3 linked regions of the Homo sapiens genome follow. The protein of the gene in region 2 interacts with the protein of the main gene of each other region in a pairwise test. Each region holds a gene or a part of one and is shown on either strand. Other genes may lie near its edges.

Region 1 (6,886 bases), on a different chromosome or scaffold from region 2:
TAAAAATATGTATATATATATATAGAAAACAAACAAGCAAGCTGCAGATAGGAAGATAATATACACAATACTTACAGCTCATGAAGGACTTCTATCCAGTAGAAAGGAAAACTCTTACAACTCAATAAGAAGATGACTTAAATCAAAAATGGGCAAAATATTTGAAAAGTTACTTTCCAAAAAAGAGAAATGTCAGATAAGCCTATGAAAAGATGCTCAACATTATTAGGGAAATGCATATTAAAACCACAATGAAATACTACTACATATCCACTAAAGTGTCTAAAATTTAAAAGACTGACAATATCAATCATTGACAAGGATATGGAGAAACTGAAATTAATTTAATACATTGCTAGCAGAAATCCCAAATGGTACAGATAATTTGGAAAAGTTTGGCAGTTTCCTTTAAAGTTGTGCATAAACTGGTCATAAGACTCAGCAATTCCATCCCTAGGTATTTACATAAGAGAAATGAACACATATGTCCACACATAGAATTGTGATTTATATATATAGCAGCTTTATTCATAATAGATCAAAACTTGAAACAACCTAAATGTCCATCAATAGGTGAACAGCTAAACAAATTGTGGTATATCTATATACTAGAATACTATTCAGCAATAAAAAGGAACTTATTATTGATACACATGATAACATGGATGAATCTCAACATGGATGGGTTTCAAAAGCATCATGTTAAGCAAAAAAAAAGTCAGACACAAAAAGAGTGCATATTATATGGCCTATTTATTTCAAACTCTAGAATTCTGAAGTCAAATCTAACGTATAGCCACAGAAAGCAGAAAAGTAGTTGACTAGGGATGGCTGTTCAGGTGGAGGGGAACCAACTGCAAAAGGGCTTTAGAGAACTTTTTGGGTGATGGACACACACTATATCAGGATGGTAGTGGTGGTGAAGTGGGTGTTTACATTTGTCAAAACTCTCCCAACTATAACGTTAAAATACTTGCATTTTATTATTTCTAAGTTATACTCATTTAAGAAAGTTAATAGAGGTGAACAGAGGATATCCTAATTCATTTCACATTCTTCCCTTCCAATTCAATCTAGAGTCAACAATGTGGTCTGTCACAATTCCAACTCAGCAGACCTTTTAAATATCCTGAACAAATGTTTACCTGTTGCCTTGTAATTAACACTACTCAATTTCAATAGAATTTCCATTATTTAAAAAAAACCTCTAAAATTAGGAAAGAATTCCCACATGTGGTTTTTAATATATCTCATGCTTACTTCGAAATATAATCTGCACTAGTCTTTGTTAAAGTTTGAGGGAGTCATAAAATAATGTCCCTCTCCTCTCCTGACCTCTGAACCACTTGAGACACAGACAGATGGAGATTCAATATTTTAAGTTTACTGCTGAAAAAGGCTAGGTTAGAGGATGTACTTTAAGTTTATGCCAACAATAGCCACCAGATATTGAACTTAGAATTAGACAGACCTGCTTACTAAGGCATGGGCAGTTCTGCACAAGCACAAATCTCCCTTTGCAGAGGCAAAGAACTTTCACTGCAAGGTTCACAATGTAGCTGGCAAGAGACCACAACATCGGTTCTCTGCAGTTATGACAAATCCACAAAAGGGAAAAAAGAGGCTAGCATGCCCAGTTCTATATCTTAAACTCCCTCCTTTCCTGGTGAAGTGAGAGAAAGAGATTAGAATTCCTTGGTAAATGGATAGCCTAAGAAGCACTGTGAGAGGAAGCCATCCTTACCCGCCGCTGCCTTCTGACCAAAGTAGTTCATATATAGTGCACATTAGGGCATGATTCATGTTACAGTAGCTTTAGGGCCACACTTCTTCTTCCGAAGTAACCATATTTAATTGCAAGTGACTAAGGTAAATGACTTTAGGGATAACCTCCTTTATTTCATTTTATTTCTGTTTTATAATTTATATATTTCAATATCTTATTATTGGTAAGAAAAACTTAACTTTCTCAGTCCTAAAATTCTTTATTATCAAATACATCAGTTTAATAATAATCTCTAAGGAAGAAAAAAACACATTTAAGATATCCATTGATTTGAAGATAATTATTATGGAACTATGGTTCTTATGTCAACTCACAACTCATTTAGATATTAATACATGTATCATGAAATCATAGCTCAGAATTGCTGGTCCAGAGTCACTTTAGAATGGCTCTGATTCAAGGAAATTAAAAGAAATGATTGTTAATTTTCTTAGTGCTGGGAAAGGCAGTGAAACAAGCTTTTGAATCATTATGTAATTTTCAAACAACTAAAAGGGCTATACTGTTCAGTTATAATCTTAAAAATTCTAGCTGAGACAGAGCTTTTAAAAAATCTTTATAGTTTTACCATACGGCATCAATTCAAAAGATTGTCATACTGAAACCACTGCCATAAAATTTTGTATGTAGGCCCCAGTTGCAGTAGATCTGGCTCCTGTGAGCTATAACTTGCATGGCTTTTCAATGTTTATGTAGTGTCTGTTAATATATTTAAGATAAATACTCTATAACCAAACAGCCTGTTTTCTAGAGAATGATATATGATTCTTGTGTTATCAGGCATGGTCTGGATGTCTAGACACTCTGACTAATGAGTGTCTATGCCATACAATTCTCAAACAAGAATAATGTAAATTATAGTCAATATAACTTGAACAGTAAACAGTGTTATTTCAGAAAGTATATTAAACATCTATATCATTATCATGAACATCAATTCTCTTCAGATTCATAAAGATTTGTTATTAAAATTAACAAGCTTAGTCTATGTTTGTATATCAGTATTCACATCCTTGTAAAATAATGGGTGCATTTTTCTCTTCACGCATAGAAGAGTATGAGCTAAAATAAGCATTTTGAGGGGCCTGCAGAAATGAGCTGCCTTCCTTCTCCATAACTTACTGTTTCTTTTTCTCCTCTGTCTTATGTCTAAACTATTTTATGTCTTATATCTGGGTAAGAAAGAGACTAACTTGGCCTACCATGCCAGTACAGAGGAAACACTAGGTTCTTATAACAGGGCCTAGTGGCCACATGCATTCCATCCTGAGTCTTGCCTCTTTGGGACTTGAGCTATAGACCCTGTCAAGAAAAATCCCACTATCTCTCCTATAATACTGGAATCAGAGACTTCTTACTTTCAGATAAGGAAAGGATTACAAAAAAAGTTCTCCTTTTTTAAAATCAGAGGAAATTGAGGTTAAATATCTCCAAACTAACTCAAGTTCTTCATAGAAATAGCTAGCATTTACTGAAATAGCTGGCATTACTTCATGTGTGAGGCACCATGCAAGGTACTTTAAATATATTAAGTTCATATAAGAAAGACACTAAGTAGATCAATCTAATTTTTCAAAAGCTAACAACATAAAATAATAGGAAAATCTTCAAAATGCAGAAAAAAACTATTTATTCACAAATTACACAAAAAACAAACATCCATTACTCAAAACAATATACCAAATGTTGAGTACTCACTTCTCTAGATACCTATTTACGTTTTGAGAATGTTCTTTATTAAACAAAATAAAATAATTAACATATTTTTTGGAGCACTCTGAAACTAACCTCTCTAACCAGAGCTAATTTTCTGATGATATAACTTAAGGAAAGAATATTCTTTTCAAGGCAAGTGCTAATTTCTCCAACCCTGAAAAGAGATATGCATTCCAATAAAACAAAAGTTTTAAAAACCATCTTCATAAAAAATGTAGATCATTACTTATAAGCTCCAACAGTAGTAAGATCTTTAACATAAAGTGGGCTACTTTCATCTCTAACAAAGATAAAATTAATACACCAATAGTATCTTCCTGAGTGTCAGAAGTAACAGAACCCAACAGTTCTATATTATTGTACTACAATATATAGTATAAAAATAATAGTTCAGATTAGCAATGACAGTATTGGTTTGTGAATATGACTGTGGACTTTCAATAAAATTTTTTTTAATATAGCCTTTTCATACTCATGAGATTGTACTATAAATCACATTCCAATTTCTATGTATTTTGTGCTTAAGTTATTTATTCATTGGCACTCTAATAACAGCCCTACTTTTTTATTTTTAGAAAGATATAATTAGCTATTTAAAATTGTAATTATTTTTCATTTCACTGAGTAGTTTCAAAAAAAGTTATCTAGAAAAGTAATTCCCAGTCATCAAATGGAAAGACACAAGCAAGAAGTAAGTTGTTTCCAGGGTTTTTAAAGCTTTGTAAAATAAAGAAAAGAAAGTATTGGTTTTGACTGGGATAATATAGCAGTACAATTGTCATTAACCTATCTGTAAAAGCCATTCATTTAAAAATGCATATTTTAAAAATGACTCATTTGTGGTAAGGATTACTTACTGTAACAATTAAAAAATAAAACCATCATTCTCATATTTATCAATACTTTACACTTTTACCAAATACTGAAGGAGACAACTATCATTGTTACAACTTCAAAGTCAAAACAGAAACACAAATCAGAATTAAGAGAAACTTCAGAAAATGTTCAGAATGTACACATTTGTGTGCATTTTCAGCCAAACTTTCAAAGATTCCACATATAACCAAATGACAACTTTGAATCAAAATGAATGTCAAAAATATTCAAGCTTTCTGACAGACTTACTCTAATGAAGCAAGAAAAAGACAGCAAATATTAAGCGCAGTATATTTCTCAGAGGGAGGGAAATCACACACTTCCTTTATCATAAAACAAAAGTTGAGACAGCATTTCAGTAACATTGATCAAATTATTCACTATTCAAGAATACATTTTTCAAGTTTTGTCTTTAAAATGTATTCATTTACATATTCAGATTAAACTAAGTTTATTAATCAAAGACCATTTTACTCAGAATTTTAACCTTGAGAAATATAAATCATAACTTATCAAAGCATATTCCAAACACTATACAATAATCCTGCCATTTTAGTTTTTATATGCCTCATCTGAAAAACATATTTTACAACCAGGCGTTCTCCTATCTATCTCCAGAGTAAATGTCTCTATGTCAAAACTTCAAGAGGCAATCAAAAAGACAGATTCAAATAATCCTATGCATACTGCTTCATCGGGCTTTGATAAAAACAGAGCCATCTGGTGGTGTAGCACCATCCTCCTTTTCAGTTACAGTCTCTATGGCCCCAGAAGCAGACACAATAACCATTGTTTTATTTGCTGAAACTGTCTTCTCTTTCTCAGCAATAGCTGCACAAACAGCAACAATCTCATCACTTTCAAAGTCATAGTCTGGAATTGACTTTGGTGAAAAGTGTGTTACTTCAGCTGGTGCTTCACTTTTTTTAATCCTCTGTGCTACCTTCTGCTGCTCCTGGAGCGTTCTTGCCCAAGAGAGGTCTTCTTTCCATATTTCAGGGTTCATTGGATAGATGTGAAGGGCTACTTGAAAACTTCGAATTGCCTAGAAAATAAGGTCAGAGTTTTTTGTTTTGGTTTTAAAAATTAGTATGTTTAATACAATCCTGTGTGTTTACGTACATATATACTGTACACATACACATCCTAATGCATTATCTTAATGTACTAGAACACAAAAGATGGAAGCTACGGTGTTGCCCTAAACACTGGGGAAAAAAATTATAGAAGTGTGAAAGAAAGTGACTGACAATATGCTTATGGACTAAAAGCCATTAAAATGGGAGTACTCATAATAGGGCTAAAGATAAAGCAAATATATTCTCAGCTTCAGTAGACCAGTAAGTATGTACATTTGGGGATTTCCTGGGCTAACCCACAATCACAAAGGTACCAGGAGTGGATATCTTTGAAGTTAACAGTTTAGATCCTAACAATGTTAACATTTATTGACTGTTTACTACATTCTAGGCACTAAAGATTTACATGTATTTGGCTGGGCACGGTGGCTCATACCTGTAATCCCAGCACTTTGGGAGGCTGAGGTGGGCGGATCACCTGAGGTCAGGAGTTCAAGACCAGCCTGGCCAACACAGTGAAACCCTGTCTCTACTAAAAATACAAAAATTAGCCAGGCATGATGGCGGGTGCCTGTAATCCCAGCTACCCAGGAGGGTGAGGCAGGAGAATCGCTTGAACCCGGGAGACAGAGGTTGCAGTGAGTTGAGATCACGCCATTGCACTCCAGCCTGGGCAAAAAGAGCAAAACTCCATCTCAAAAAAAAAAAAAAAAAAGATTTACATGTATTAACTCATCTATCCTCACAATAATCATATGAAGTAGGTATGGTTATTGTTTTCAGTACTATTTTAGAGAAGCACAGAAAGAGTAGAAACCAAAGGTATCAGCTGGGAATTGGCAGAGCTGGGATGCAAATTCAGGCAGTCTGGCTTCAGAGTCCATTCTCTTATTCATTATATTATACTGCTTAGTCACAAGAACTCCACTACAGTCTGGATAAAGGTCAACCTCAGCACTACTGACATATTTGGCTGAGTAATTCTTTATTTTGGAAGGGCTGTCCTCTATAATGTAGAATATTCAGCAACATCCCTGACCTACACTCACTAAATCCAATACAGCTTCCTTTCCTAGTTGTGATAAACAAAAATGTCTCTAGACATGGCAAATGTTCTCTGGGGGTAAAACTGCCCTCCAAGTGAGAATCATTGGTCTAAATCTATTATATGTTGTTTTCTCTGAGTATACTTAGTCTCTGGATAGAAGATTCTCATGCAAACAGATTAGTTTTAAGATTGCACTTAATCGGCCAGGCACCATGGCTCACGCCTGTAATCCCAGCACTCTGGGAGGTCAAGGCAGGCGGATCACCTGAGGTCAGAAGTTCAAGACCAGCCTGGCCATGGTGAAAACCCGTCTCTACTAAAAATACAAAAAATTAGCCAGGTGTGGTGGTGCACGCCTGTAATCCCAGCTACTCGTGAGGC
Region 2 (7,136 bases):
TAGGTACTGGGGTTAGGACTTCAGTATGTCTATTTTGGGGACACAATTCAACCACAACCTACAGCAAAGGGTAGGTGGCCTGACTGAGGTGGGGTGGCCGATTTGATGGTAGATCCAGAAACAGAACTCACTTAGGCCTGATTCTGGAGACTTCCACAGCGTCAGTCTAATGTGCTGAGTGCCCCGCCTGGAGGAAAAATTCGGGCATCCTGCTCCCTGCGTGCTGGTTGAGCTGAGGGCTGCCCCAGGTCAGTGTCGCTTTGTGGCTAGTGTTGGGGGTCCAGACTTGAGGCGCCCTGGGCTGTAGGATGCCCACAGCCTCACCACTCCCATGAACTCCTCCAGCCCCGTTTCACCCCAGGCCACCCTCCCCGCAGCCTCCCCCTGCTCCCTTGCCGTCAGCGCTGCCCATTTCCAGGCTGGCTGCACAGTCTCACAGCCTGCAATGGCCTCTTGCGGTTCGGTGATTTCACAGGGACTTTGAACGTCCACCATTTAGGAAGGGTACTGGTCAGCTGAATCCGGCCTGAAGACCCAAATTCAACCACTTCCTTTTGAGGGAAACTTTCAAGGGAATATATGAAGAGGGTCTTGTTTATCAAACCCTTTCGGGTCAGAGAGATCCTGGCCTGGAACCTTGCGAGTCCCTCAAGCTCTTCCTGGCCCAGTTTCTGCCTGTAAAATGGGACAGCTGTACCTTCCATGGTTCTTGGGGAATGGAGTGAAATTATCTGTAGGGCCTAGCATAGTGCCTGGCACGTAGCAAGCTGCAAGTGATGGTTGCCACGGAGACACCAGCAGCCTTGCCTGGTGGGGCTGGAGTGTTCCCTACCCACGGTCCACCCTGTTCCTCCTTTGTAAGGCAGGACAAGGCAGGGCAGGGCAGCGGGCGGATGGGCATCCTTTCGGAAAAAATTCATAGAGCGCAGAGGGCCTTGGCTGTGGTGTTTGGCACTAACGAGCTTCCCTCTCTCCTAGATGGCGGACTGTGGCGGCCTCCCGCAGATCTCCCAGGTGAGTGCCATGTTGGCTTTTGCATTATACAGCTGTCGCTTCCCCCTGGGTGGAGTGCATGTGCCTCTGTGACACCTGTTCCCTCATTACCTTGCTGTGACATCGGATGACAGTTTGTGGACTGTTGGGAAAAGGTGCTATATAGGAGGACTCTGATTCCCTAGGAACCAACCCCTGTGGAGTAGGTGATACTGCGGTTCACAGAGGTTGGGGGATTTGCCAAGTAGACACACCTTGGTCATCATGGGTCAGAATCTGGGTATGTCTGCCCCAAAGACCACGGGCTTCTGCTGGAGTGAAGGGCCGCAAGGAGCTCCAGCCCAGAGCAGAGGGACATGGAGGAGATTAAGCCAAATTGTGTGTGTGTGCATGCATGTTTCTGTGTGTGCATGTGTACACGTCTGTGTGTGTGCATGTGTACACATGTCTGTGTGCATGTGTAAATGTGTGTGCACATGTACAAATAAACACATTGATCAACGTAATGTGTTTGCTACGTAACTGATCCCTTCAATTTCCCCTCCTATAAAGAATCTCACCAACCTAACAAGTAAACTTTTAATTTGTTGTCTTATAATTTTATATCCTGACAGTTTTGTGTTCCATCTTAAAATGAAATAGAGTTTTTTGTCATCTTTTTTATCCAAAACCTGCCCTGCCTCCTTTCTTCCTCCTTTTTTTCTTTCTCTACTTAAAATGAGAACAGATGTAACCCTGGTCATAATTAAAAGAATTTTCAGAGCTTCAGAGGAGTGCAACGAGCACAGGCTTCGAGGACACCAGCACAGGGGGGAGCAATTCCTGTGTGACACTGTCGTCCTCATGCCGTTGCAGGTTGGGTGTATGTTTACACAGGGTTTTCCCATCCTTGATTAAATTAGGTCCTTGCAATAGTCCTCAGAGGTGGGAAGAGCAAGCATTTTATCCCAGTGTCACAGAAGAGGAAACTGAGGCCAAAAGTTGAGAGAGATTGCCCATGATTACTGGAGCTAAAATTGGGCCCAAGTGTTCTCATTCCCAAGCGTGTATTCTTGGTTCTCTCCACCATCTCGAACACAGGCGTCCCTGTTCCCTGCAGCCCTGACCTGCTTCTCTTGTCTCTTTCTTCCACTGTCACACAAATTCCAGAGGGCAATTTGAGCATAGCCGCTCTTTTAAATGTCATTTGGCTCTTTGTGGAATCCTGGCAGGAGTTAGTGGAGAGCAGGGAGGGGGGTCAGCCCAGCCTCTACCAGTGCCCTCTCACTGCCTCAGGAGAATAGGACCCAGGGCACTGGATAGAACAGTTGGGATTAACTGAAGAACAGATACGCCTTGCACGTATGCCCTTGATATTTGAGCATTCACCTCCAAGTTTACATTAAATGAACTGAGAGAACTGGTAGAACTGGATGTGGTCTCAGCATTCCATACGCATTTCACTTAAAGTAGCCCAGTTAGTTGTTAATTAATTGGTTTGTTTACCCATCCAACGAACCATCCAACCATCATCCATTCATTCTTCTTCATATCCTTTCTTCCTTTTATTTGTCCTTCTTTTGTTCATATTTCTCTTTTTTTCTTCCTTTTGTCCATCAATTCTTTTTTTAATCCATCTTTCCTTCCTTCCTTCCTTCTCTTCCTTTCTTTCTTTTTTCCTTCCTTCTTTCCATCCATCCTTTTCTTTCCACCCATCCATCTATCCATCATCCCTTCTTTCAGCCAGCCTGCTATTGAGGCTGACAGTGATTTGCCTCAAGAACAAGTGTTTTAGGTTTGGAGAGCCCTGGGTTAATGTACAGGACCCACCACTTACTTGTTGTGGGACCCTGAGTGGATTTACCTGTCCAAATCTGTTCAGCTATGAAATGTATCTAAGGTAGCACTGACCTCGTGAGGGGTTGTCAGGAGTAAATGAATGAACGCAGCAAAGCCCCTTGCATTGGGAGTGGCTCATGATGCCGATGCAGTTATGTTCCACTTGCTGGGTTAGACATGTCCCTTTGTGGATGGTAATCTCCTCAGAAACACACAGAAATAGCTGTGATACTCTGCCCTGTATTACAGGTGAGGAAACTGGCTCAGACAGGTCATGTAACTTGTCCAAGTTCCACAGCTGTGGGGTGAATTTCCCATCATTGTCCCATACTCTTACTTTTGTGTTTTGTCCTGTCAACACGTGATGGCTTTTGTCTTGAGCCAAACTCTCAAATGAAGGTGACCACAGGCACAGCCCCCCATGGCCTCGGGTGATCTGGCTCCCCAGCAACTGACTGCATTTTCTCTCCTTGTCTCTCGCAGCCGGCCAAGCTCGCTGAGGCCTTCAAGTACTTCGTGCAGGGCATGGGATACAGTGAGTATGGCATTCCCCGTGTGCAGTGGGTCGGGGCATGTGTCGGAATTGGAAGTGCTCTGTCCTGAGCCAGGTTTGGATGAGCAATTCTGTGTCCCCCTGGCCAGCTTCAGCTTTCTGGGAGGAAACAGTTAGGTGTGTGGAGGGCATGTGGCAGCCTGGAGGATCTAGCCTCTCATTTATCAGTGAGGCTCATTTTTCCTCCTTTGTTGAATAGAAGTTGTTTCACACCAGGGATTTTGGGGGGTTTAGATGAGGACTGTCCCTTTAAGCACCAAGACAATGACCAACAGTGAAACAATAACATTTTTAAAAATTTTGATCACAAGTTTTAAGAGACCACTAGCTACAGTGATGATGAAGATGGTGTCGATGATGATGAAAGATTACTAACACATTATTTTATCTCACTGAACCATCACAGTACTCCTTTGACATATTCTTAGCCCATCTTATCAGTGATGAAGCTGAGGCTTCGGGGTTGTAAGCAGGGAGCAGAGGGCGGATCTGTGGAAATTCTTTGAAGACTGTGAAGCTCTGTGGAAGTGGCTAACAAAGTTGCTTACATTCAAGGTGGAGCATGCCATAGTCAAGTCATGAGCTTTGGGAAGTGGAGGATACATTGGAAGCATCATTCAGGAACTCACTCGTTCTTATTTTGCAGTTATAGTTTGTTAGACACATACAGCCTTTTTTCCAGAAGTGCTGTCCCAGGACTAGGACAGACCCTGGCGAGTTGTAACTCGGCTGAACAGCAGCCACACTCAGTGCTGTGGGCCTGTCAGCCATGGTCCGGCCCTGACATGACTAGTGGCTCTTCTGACCCTACTGCTTGGAACTATAATTCGTGTGTCCTCCCTTACTAGGAAGTTATTGAACTTCTGATCCCTTTTATCATTTCCTTAAACTGTTTGCCCATGTATAGTAAGAGTATGCTTGGTAAGCTGACTGCAGTCCTAGCATTGGCCTTAGCCATGATTAGCTCTAGCAAGGCGAGGCTGGCAGGTTTGATTTCCATGCCTCAGGCTCAGGCAGGATCCACATCCCCAGGTGCCCTCTTCCAACAGAAGCTATCTGCTAGTGGGGCTCCTGCCTTTCTAGCCTGCTTTCCCCGACGGAAGTTGCAGGCAAAGGTTGTCATTGGAGACAGCCATGGAGACAGCCGCGGGGCAGTCCTGCTTTACCCTGCACGGTGTGAATTGTGGCTCCCATTTGTCTTGGTCCCGCCAGGGTTTGGATTTCTGCTTTGAGAGTGTGTTCTGGAGAGAAAGGAAGTGAATGCTAGACCTCATCTTTCTCCCCAAATCGGCTTCTATTACCAGAAAGCTGAAGCCTCCTGCAGGTCTTGGGGGGAAAATAACAGGAAGAGCTATGGTCTCAAAGGCATCAGCCAAAGAGAAGGAAAGGAACCGGTCACTGGCCTTCTGCACACCACGGGGTGCTGGCTTGATGAACCCTTTGCACACCTGGCATCAGTGCTCACTGTACGCTTCTCATCCTGCTCAGTAGACATCCCAGATTTGTGGGTGAGAAGTAGGGGCTCAGAGAAATATGTGAGCTGCGGATGTGGCATTGACCCCAATTCTTTCTGAATTCAAAACTAGCTCTTTAAGACAATTCAGCAAGGATTAATTCTGTTTGGGAGTGCCTGACATCAAAAGCCCCTCCCTGTGCCTATCAAGGAGATAACATAAGCCCTGCATGCTTGGTGTGGATCAACTGCCCCTGTTTCTGATGTCTGACTCAGTGTGGCCTCCTAGCCATGATGCTTCAGTTGGGTGGAGTACTAGTTTCCTAAAGCTGCCGTAACAAATCTCCACAAACTGGGTGGCTGAAAACAATAGAAATCCATTCTCTCAAAGTTCAGGAGGCCTAAAGTCCAAAATCAAGGTGTGGGCAGGGCCTTGCTCCCTCCAACGCTGCTGTGGAAGAACCTTCCATGCCTCTTCCTGGCTTCTGGTGGCCCCAGCAATCCTTGGCTTTATGTGGCTTGTGGCTGCATCACTCCAATCTCAGCCTCTGTCTTTGCGTGGACTTCTCCCCTGCATATCCCTGTGTGCTGTTTCTATAAGGACATCACAGTCATTGGGTTTAGGGTTCCCTCTCAACCCAGGATGATTTCATCTCAAGATCCTTAACTAATTACATATGCAAAGACCCTATTTCCAAATAAGGTTCCCTTCTGAAGTTTCAGGTAGGTGTGAATCTTCCGGGACACTGTCCCACCCGGTACAGGTGGGCAGGATTGTTCCTCCTCATTCCACCCCATCAGCACGTGCTACCCCATCAGCATGTGCCACTTGCACGTGCCATGTGCAAGAGCATTTGAGGTCTCAGAGAAGATCCCAAAGAATAGACAGCGCCCTTGTTAGCACCTGGGCTGACAGGCTTCTTTGGGAGAGATGACAACGAATAGCCATGCCGGGAACTTGCCGTGTGGCCCCTCTCCCTTTCCCCACCTGTGATGTGCAGGGCCACTGACCCCAGGTGTCCTCCCTGCTCCAGTGATCATGGACAGCATGGGGTCATGGGCGTACACACAGGTGCTGATACCAGGGGTCAGTATTTAACATACTTGCTTTACAGATGGGAACAGGGAGGCTCAGGGGGACACTCTCAAAATTACACAGCTTTTAACAGGTGGCAGAATTGGGGTTCAGACCCAGATCTGGGTTCAAGTCACTCATGGTGTGATTGCGGCAGTTCCTTCCCGCATCTGGGCCTTGCCATCTCTCTCTCCGAGTGGACATGGAGAGGACGGGGGCCCAGCAGCTGGATGGCTGCAGGGATCAAGTCTTCTCTGGGGCTGGCACGTAGAAGAGCATGTGGCTGGTGGACGGGCATGCCTGGCTCCTCACCTGGCAGTCTCCTGCCCTCTAACCGGCTGTCTCTTGTTCCCCTAGTGCCCTCGGCTAGCATGACCCGCCTGATGCGGTCCCGCACAGCCTCTGGTTCCAGCGTCACTTCTCTGGATGGCACCCGCAGCCGCTCCCACACCAGCGAGGGCACCCGAAGCCGCTCCCACACCAGCGAGGGCACCCGCAGCCGCTCGCACACCAGCGAGGGGGCCCACCTGGACATCACCCCCAACTCGGGTGCTGCTGGGAACAGCGCCGGGCCCAAGTCCATGGAGGTCTCCTGCTAGGCGGCCTGCCCAGCTGCCGCCCCCGGACTCTGATCTCTGTAGTGGCCCCCTCCTCCCCGGCCCCTTTTCGCCCCCTGCCTGCCATACTGCGCCTAACTCGGTATTAATCCAAAGCTTATTTTGTAAGAGTGAGCTCTGGTGGAGACAAATGAGGTCTATTACGTGGGTGCCCTCTCCAAAGGCGGGGTGGCGGTGGACCAAAGGAAGGAAGCAAGCATCTCCGCATCGCATCCTCTTCCATTAACCAGTGGCCGGTTGCCACTCTCCTCCCCTCCCTCAGAGACACCAAACTGCCAAAAACAAGACGCGTAGCAGCACACACTTCACAAAGCCAAGCCTAGGCCGCCCTGAGCATCCTGGTTCAAACGGGTGCCTGGTCAGAAGGCCAGCCGCCCACTTCCCGTTTCCTCTTTAACTGAGGAGAAGCTGATCCAGTTTCCGGAAACAAAATCCTTTTCTCATTTGGGGAGGGGGGTAATAGTGACATGCAGGCACCTCTTTTAAACAGGCAAAACAGGAAGGGGGAAAAGGTGGGATTCATGTCGAGGCTAGAGGCATTTGGAACAACAAATCTACGTAGTTAACTTGAAGAAACCGATTTTTAAAGTTGGTGCATCTAGAAAGCTTTGAATGCAGAAGCAAACA
Region 3 (7,613 bases), on a different chromosome or scaffold from region 2:
AACCATTTATTTAAGTCTTCATTCACTGCCTTTAGAGCTTTAAAACTATATTTTATATATATTAGATGTTCCAGTTGGTTAGTTTCTAGGAATTCTCTAGATTGAGGTAAAACAAAAATGAGTATCGACATTGAACTTTGGGCAGATGGAAGCAGATAAAGTATTTTCAGTGCAGATTAATTGTGTAAAGCTTATTCCAGTCCCTCATTCTTTCCCAAATGGTTTTTGGTAGGGAAAAGCAAATTGGCTTTTGCACTTATCTCCCATTTTTTGGTCATTCTATCCTATCTTTTAGGGATTTTATTATCAAATTTATAGTTTGCAGAGAAGTGTGTTGGATATACAAAGAGTCAAAGTTATAGAATTTTGCCTTTCCTGAAGATTCTCACAATCAAATTCAGGACATCAGATATACACTGTGTCAACTTCATGAAACAGAAAATCCCAGTAACAGTGATTTAAACAAAATATAGATTTATTGGTCTCTCATGTAATTGGAAATCTGAAGGCAGGCAATCCAAGACTAGCATATTGACTCCACACTGTCTTCAGAATCCTGGGCTCCTTCATGTCTTCTACTTCTTTAAAATCAAGATGTGGGTCTCATCTTCATGTATACCAGAAGATTGCCAGTGCTCCAGCCATCATGACTAATTTCCAAGCAGAAACAAAAGACAGAGCAAAAGTCCAGTGCTGAGCCAGCTCCTCTTTAACTAGTTTTCCTGGTAGCTCCCAGTGATGTCTGCTCCTATCATTGCCCATAACAGCATCATATGATTGCCACCAACTACAAGGGAGCTGACAGATGTAACATTTTAGCTAGGCATATTGCTACTCTTAATAAAATCAAAGATCTGTTTGTAAGTAGAGAGAGTGGATATCGGCCAGGCAAATGATAGTCTCTACCACTCAGTGTACAAAGTAAAAGGGAAAACATAAAGTAGAGTTTTGTTCAGGCTAAGACCATGTGTCCAAGAATGTGAGGTTAATGCATGGCCTTGATGGTTAAGTTGGATTCAGATAAATGGTGGTGAGAAGAGGGGACATTTTAAGACCAGTAAGGGCTTGATCACAGATGAGGTAAAGGTCCTCCTAGCAGGTGTAAAGGAGAATGGTGGTAGGGAGGGAGGGACTTCCTCTGTGCTTAGAATGTCTTTCTGGGAGTGTGAGGATATGTAGAAATGCAAGGATAGATTGGTTATCAGCTCTGTTTACCAATTACCGTTGTCCTCATTAAATCTTCAATAACAACTAACGTTTATTAAAACCAAGTATGTACCAAAGGGTTTGCTAGGTGTTTTAACGTATGTTGTATCTAATCCTTACAATAACCCCATTTTGGGGATAAGAAAACTGATCTGTCACAGGTTGAATACTTGATCAAGCTCATGCGTCTTTTAAATTTAAGATATTCTGACTTGAATGTGTTTTACACCAGACTCCATGATTTTTTTCCCACAATGTCACAATGTTAAGTTAATTTATTAACTTTGCTTGGGATTGGGGGTGAAGGTGGGTGAGTTAAACCGGTATTCCTTGATATTTTCTAAATTCTAAACTTTAGGGGAACTTTACAAACTCTTCAACTAACTAGCAGTGTGATCATAGACAAGGTACTTATCCTCTCTGGATTTGAATTTGTTTACTTATTACTCAGATACAAAACCAGACAGATACTATAAGAGAGGAAGCTTTCAGTCCAACATCCTTCATCAACACAGACACAAAAATTCTAAAAAAATGTAATCCATGATACATAGAACATAATCCAACAATACATGAAACAAATAATAAAACTGACAAAGCAGGCTTTATTGAAGAAATACTAAGTTGGTTTAACGTTTGAAAATCAAGTAACAAACTACAAAAAGAAAATAGGAAAAAGGTATGATTATATCAGTAGCTGCAGAAAAGCATTTGACAAAAATCCAACATCCCTTCCTGATAAAAACTCTCAGTAGACTACAAATAGAAATTTCCTTAATCTGATAGAAAATTTATGAAAAACTTATAGCTAATATCATACTTAATGGTAAAAGGCTGAATACTTTTCCTCTAAGATCAGGAACAAGACAAGGATGTTCACTCTCAACATTTCTATTCAACACTGCGCAGGCTCTAACCAGTGCAATAAGGCAAGAAAAAGAAATCAAAGACATCTGTATTAAAAAGAAAGAGTAAAACTCTTTCTACACAGATGACATGATTTTTCTATGTAGAAAATCTGATAAAATCCATAAAATGTTACTAGAACTAAGAAATGAGTTTAGAAAGATTACAGAATACAAGATCAATATACAAAATCTACATACTAGCAATCAGAAATTGAAATTGATAAAACAATACCACAGCATCAAAAATATGAAATGCTTTAGGATGAATCTATCAAAAGATGTGCAAAACCTATACAGTGAAAACTACAAAACACTACTAGTAGGTGTTAAGGAAGACCTAAATAAATAGATAGGCATATCTTTATTCATGGGTCAAAAGATTCAATATTGTTATGATATTAATTTCCCCCAAACTTATGGATAGAATCAATGCAATCCCAATCAAAACTTAAGTAAGATCATGTGTAGAAATTGACAGACTGAATCTAAAATTTATGTTGAAATACAAAAGACCTAAAATAGCCCAAACAACCTTAAAAAAGAACAGAGGTACAGTACCAATGCTAGCTGGTTGCAAGTCCAGTCATCAGGATATTGTAATATTGATGTAAAAATAGACAAATTAATTAATGGGACAAAATAGGAAGTCCAGAAATAGACACAACACATTGATAGGAAACTGATTTTTGACAGATTCAAAAACAGTTCAGTGGAGAAAGAGTAGTCTTTTAAAAATTGGTGCTAGGAGCCAGGCCTGGTGGCTCACGCCTGTAATCCCAGCACTTTGGGAGGCCGAGGCAGGCAGATTACCTGAGATCAGGAGTTCAAGACCAGACTGGCCAACATGGTGAAACCCCGTCTCTACTAAAAATACAAAAATTAGCCAGACGTGGTGGCACACGCCTGTAATCCCAGCTACTCAGGAGGCTGAGGCAGAAGAATTGCTTGAGCCTGGAAGATGGAAGTTGCAGTGAGCCAAGATCGTGCCACTGCACTCCAGCCTGGCCGACAGAGACTCTGTCTCAATCAATCAATCAATCAATCAATAAAAATGGTGCTGGAACAACTGGATATAGATATGCAAAAAACAAAACAGATAAACAAAACAAAACAAAAATTTTGGCCATATATAAAAATTCTAAATCGGTCAGAGACCTAAATGTAAAACCTAGAACTATAAAAATTTTAGAACAAAACATAGGAGAGAATCTTTGTGATCTTGGATTAGGCAAAGATTTCTTAAATATGATACCAAAAAAAGAACAATCCATTAACAAATTGATAAATTGGGCTTCATCAAAATTAAAAACTGCTCTTCCCAAGACAATATTAGGAGACAGAAAAGACAAACAAGAGACTGGGAAAAAAAATCTTTGTAAAGCATATGTTTGATAAAAGATTTGCATCCAAAATATATAAAGTGTTCTAAGCTCAATAATGAAACAACTCAACATTAAATGGGCAAAAGATCTGAACGGACACTTCACCAAGGAAAATACACTCGCTGCAAATACGCACATGAAAAGATGCTTAACATCATTAACGATTAGAGAATGCATAATAAAGCCACAATGAGCTACCACTACACAGAACCGGAACATCTACAGTTAAAATCTCTGGACTTTCAAGTGTTGGCAAGGATGAAGAACAACTGGAACTCGCATAGACTGCTAGTGGGAAGGTAAAGAAAAAAACCACTTGGGAAAACAGTATAGTAGTTTCTTAAATGGTTACACCTACCTTACGACCTGGGCATTCCACTTCCAGGTATTTACCCCAGAGAGGAAAAACCGTATATGTCTGTACAAAGATTTGCACAGGGATGTTCCTAGCAGCTGTAGTTCTAATCAGGAAAAATTGAAAGCAGGCTAAATCAAGTGCTGACTAAACACACGGTGGTATATCCATAAATGGAATACTGCTCAGGAAGCAATGAATGATTGTTCCATGCAAAAACACGCAGGCATGTCAAAGTAACTATGTTGAGTGAAAGAAGCCAGACAAAATCAAGTACATATGGGATGATTCCATTTATGGACGACTCTAGAAAATGCAAACTAAAACAGATCAGTGTTTGGGCTGCGGATGAGTGGAGTTGGGATAGGTGGAGGGGGGCAGGGCGAGGGAGGAGCAGGAGTGGGAGGAGCTGGGAGATGCAGAGATGGGTTGGGGAGGGTCTCATGGAAGGGAAGGGAGAGAGGAAGGGGGAGAGGAAGGGGGAGGAAAGGCAAGGGGAAAAGGAGAGGAAGAGGGAGGGGGAGAGAGAGGCAGAGTGGGAGGAAAGAGGGGCGGGGACCTGGGAGGGCCCAGGGCACATAGTGGGAGGAGCAGGTGGGAAGGAGGGAAGGAGGGAGGGGCAGGGGAGGGAGAAGAGGGGGAGGGAGACGAGGGGACTGGCGGTGTGGGCGGAGCGTGGGGAGGGAGGCCGACTAGCGCAGGCGGACGGGAGAGAATGGGGGAGGGGTGGGATGGGAGCAGGGGCAGAGACGGGCAGAGGGCAGAGGGCGGAGCGGCGCCGGAGCGGGCGTCATGGCGCGGCTCCTCTGGTTGCTCCGGGGCCTGACCCTCGGAACTGCGCCTCGGCGGGCGGTGCGGGGCCAAGCGGGCGGCGGCGGGCCCGGCACCGGGCCGGGACTGGGGGAGGCAGGTAGGACGCGGGTCCCGCAGGCCCCGCCGCCGCCTACGGCTTTCGGCTTCATTTCACCGGCTGCACCCGGGAGCCTAGGGCCGGTCCAGGCCGGGCGCTGCCCTCCTACTAAGCCCTCCTCGGCGCGCCCCTCCCCCCCCCCAGCCCGAGGATCTGGGACAGTGGATTGTAAACTTGGTGGCGGCAGGGTGGGGACTGACCCCTGTGAGAATCCGAGGAAATGAACAAATGATCCCCCTAAATGTGCGCATAATTTTTTTTTTCTTGGCTCGGGGAGTGGGGGCATAAGTGGGGCTCGGGGGCCTCTGACCCCTATCGGGGACTCCAGGCGAAGGCCCGGGGCCTGGGCTGTAGCAGCCCGGCCCGCGCGCCCCTGCGAAGGCCCCTAGTATTTTGCATTGCAGCCCTCTTCGTAGTTCCGCGGGCTTCCTTCCAGCATCTGAGAAGCAGGCAGTTCAGACTTGGGGTTCCTGTGAGTGTTTCCTGCCCTGCTGACTTCCCATAAATGTGTCTAAGAGCCAGGGAGACTGGGTTGATCATTTGTTCCTTCTTTAAGGTGACAGCCATTGTTAATGACTGAGACAGAGACCAGGGCGAGCCTGTGTGTGTGTGTCTCTCTCTCTCTCTGTGTGTGTGTGTGTGTGTGTTTCTGCTAAATACTTTTGGATCCTCTCTTGGATCTGGGTACCTGCACATTTCACCAAGCAGGAAGGAGTCACCTCGGGAGACCTGTGCCAGCTACCCCTGTATTTCAGTTCTATTTCAGGGTAACTTAGTGCCCCAGGGGATTGGCTTCCTGGGCGGTTGCCAGACTGACCCACTCTGAATCCAATTTTATATGTGTTCATTGAAGACATTCAGAGATACCCAACTGATGAAAATGTACCAACTCATTCTGAGCTCTTTTTAGCCCCTGAAGTTTTCGAAATGCAATATTGAAAGAATACGTAACTAAATAAAAGCGTTGGCGTTGTGGAATGTTAGCTCATCCAACTTGACTTCCAGCTATGGCCTTTCTAATCACTGGTGTCTCTAGTCAGTCTGATGACATTTGCTGTGAGCCTACTGTGTGCCAAGCATTGTATTGCTGAGAACCACAGGTGATAGAAACAGGTCACAGTTACCGACGAGCTCTCTATAACCCCTTGAAAAAGGATGGTGGTTTTAGCGGTAACTACTTCATGGCTGTAATTGCTGCTGTCAGAAGCAGCCTAATGAATTGCCCTGGGATCTGAAGTTCTCCAGCAACAATAAAATTTGGCCAGCCACCAGTAGGTAACAGGAGCTGTGTACCTTATCAGACACCCCTCCTGGGAATCTATTCGAAGGAAATAGTTCAAAAGAAGAACAAAGAGATATATGCAAAGATGCTTTAAGCACTAGTCTCTTACAAAATGGAAACTGGCTGTAACCCAAATCAGTTAAGAAATACTTACGTAAATCATGAAAATTCAATCCAACAAACTGTTAGGCAGCCATTAAAAATGATAAACGGAGTATTTCTGTGGTGAAGGGCTTGGGTATGAATAGATGCAGATTTTGAGTCTTGGCTCTCGGTTACTTCCTGGCTCTGTGTCTGAGCTCAGGCTGCTATTGCAAAACACCGTGGACTGGGTGGCTTCAACAACATTTTCTCACAGTTCTGGAGGCTGGGAAGTCCAAGATCAAGGTGGGAACAGATTTGGTTCCTGATGCAGACCTGCTTCCTGGCTTGCAGTTGACTGCCTTCTCACTCTGCCTTCAGGTGACTGTCTCAGGAAGGACCACTAATCCCTCAAGAGAGCCTCACCTTTATGATCTAATCTAAAACTAATAACCTCCCAAGCCCCACCTCCACATTCCATCTCATTGGGAGTTAGGGCTTTAGCATATGGGAGTGGGGAGAGGAGCAGGGAGAACATATAATATTCAGTTTGTAACAATGTCTTTGGACATGTTTCTTGAATTTGGAAAGTTTAAACTTCAGATTTTTTTTCCTTCTGTCAAATAAGGATAATGATAATGGTAGGGTTGTTGTAAAGAATAACTTTTTAATTAAATATTTTGTTACAATGCTTGACACTTAGGCACACAATAAATGTTAGTTATGATTACATAAATAAGTGGAAAGGACAAAAATGTAGCTACATTTAACTTACATCATGGGCTTCGGGAGTGTTGAGAGAGAGGGAGACATTGGGAGGGGGGAAATGAGAAGATATTGAAATGACAGTATTTTTTTCCAGTGCTGCAATTTCTCATATGCTTAGAGTGATTTTTTTTAATCCAGATTGACAAAGAGCAAACTGAAAAAGGAAAGTAAGAAATATTCTGGAGCAAAAAATCTGTTGCTTCAGGAAAATATTCTTTCTAGAGATGACTATGCTAGGAAACTGTCCTGGGCATAGGGTTAAAATAGTCCAGGCACTGGTGGGAGAGACTAGTTCTGCAGATCAGAATGGGCTGGGGATTCTTTTAATACCAGTTTCTAAAGAGTTCCATTAGATTCAACACATTATTTATCAAAATGGAGTGGGCTTATGTGTGACAATTGGCAGTATAGCAACTGTGGCCAGGAAGGTTAGCAAAACCCGAAGGAGGCACCCAGTAGGTGACCATAGGACCAAGAGTGGATTTCCTTAGGGATGAAAAAATCGAGGCCCACCCCGTAGAACTTCTGACCAACAAAATATATGGCCTGTGCAAATCACAGCACACAGAGAGAAGGGAACTCCAAGGAATTTGAGTTTATTAAGGCATAATTCAAAGTAAAGCTGTGTAGTTATCTCATGCAATAGCAGCAACCGATAAATGTTTTCATAGTGAAGATAGCAAGAGAATGTAGAGGGAATCTGGAAAATGTGTAGCCCCCA

Evidence for each region. Proteins that work in one complex are often made in the same cells at the same time.
Region 1: the proteins of NDRG1 (region 2) and TTC33 interact in binary tests that used the Homo sapiens proteins (3 or more experiments, as listed by UniProt).
Region 3: the proteins of NDRG1 (region 2) and MSRB2 interact in binary tests that used the Homo sapiens proteins (3 or more experiments, as listed by UniProt).

Annotation. Positions count from the first base shown.
Region 1 is NC_000005.10:40,711,076-40,717,961, forward strand, and holds the end of TTC33 (tetratricopeptide repeat protein 33), read right to left. Parts: intron 5,424-6,886; coding exon 5,070-5,423; 3' UTR 501-5,069; downstream 1-500.
Region 2 is NC_000008.11:133,238,233-133,245,368, reverse strand, and holds part of NDRG1 (protein NDRG1), read left to right. Parts: intron 1-978; coding exon 979-1,014; intron 1,015-3,294; coding exon 3,295-3,346; intron 3,347-6,249; coding exon 6,250-6,491; 3' UTR 6,492-7,136. UniProt on the Homo sapiens protein: Stress-responsive protein involved in hormone responses, cell growth, and differentiation. Acts as a tumor suppressor in many cell types. Necessary but not sufficient for p53/TP53-mediated caspase activation and apoptosis.
Region 3 is NC_000010.11:23,090,966-23,098,578, forward strand, and holds the start of MSRB2 (methionine-R-sulfoxide reductase B2, mitochondrial precursor), read left to right. Parts: upstream 1-4,613; 5' UTR 4,614-4,643; coding exon 4,644-4,761; intron 4,762-7,613. UniProt on the Homo sapiens protein: Methionine-sulfoxide reductase that specifically reduces methionine (R)-sulfoxide back to methionine.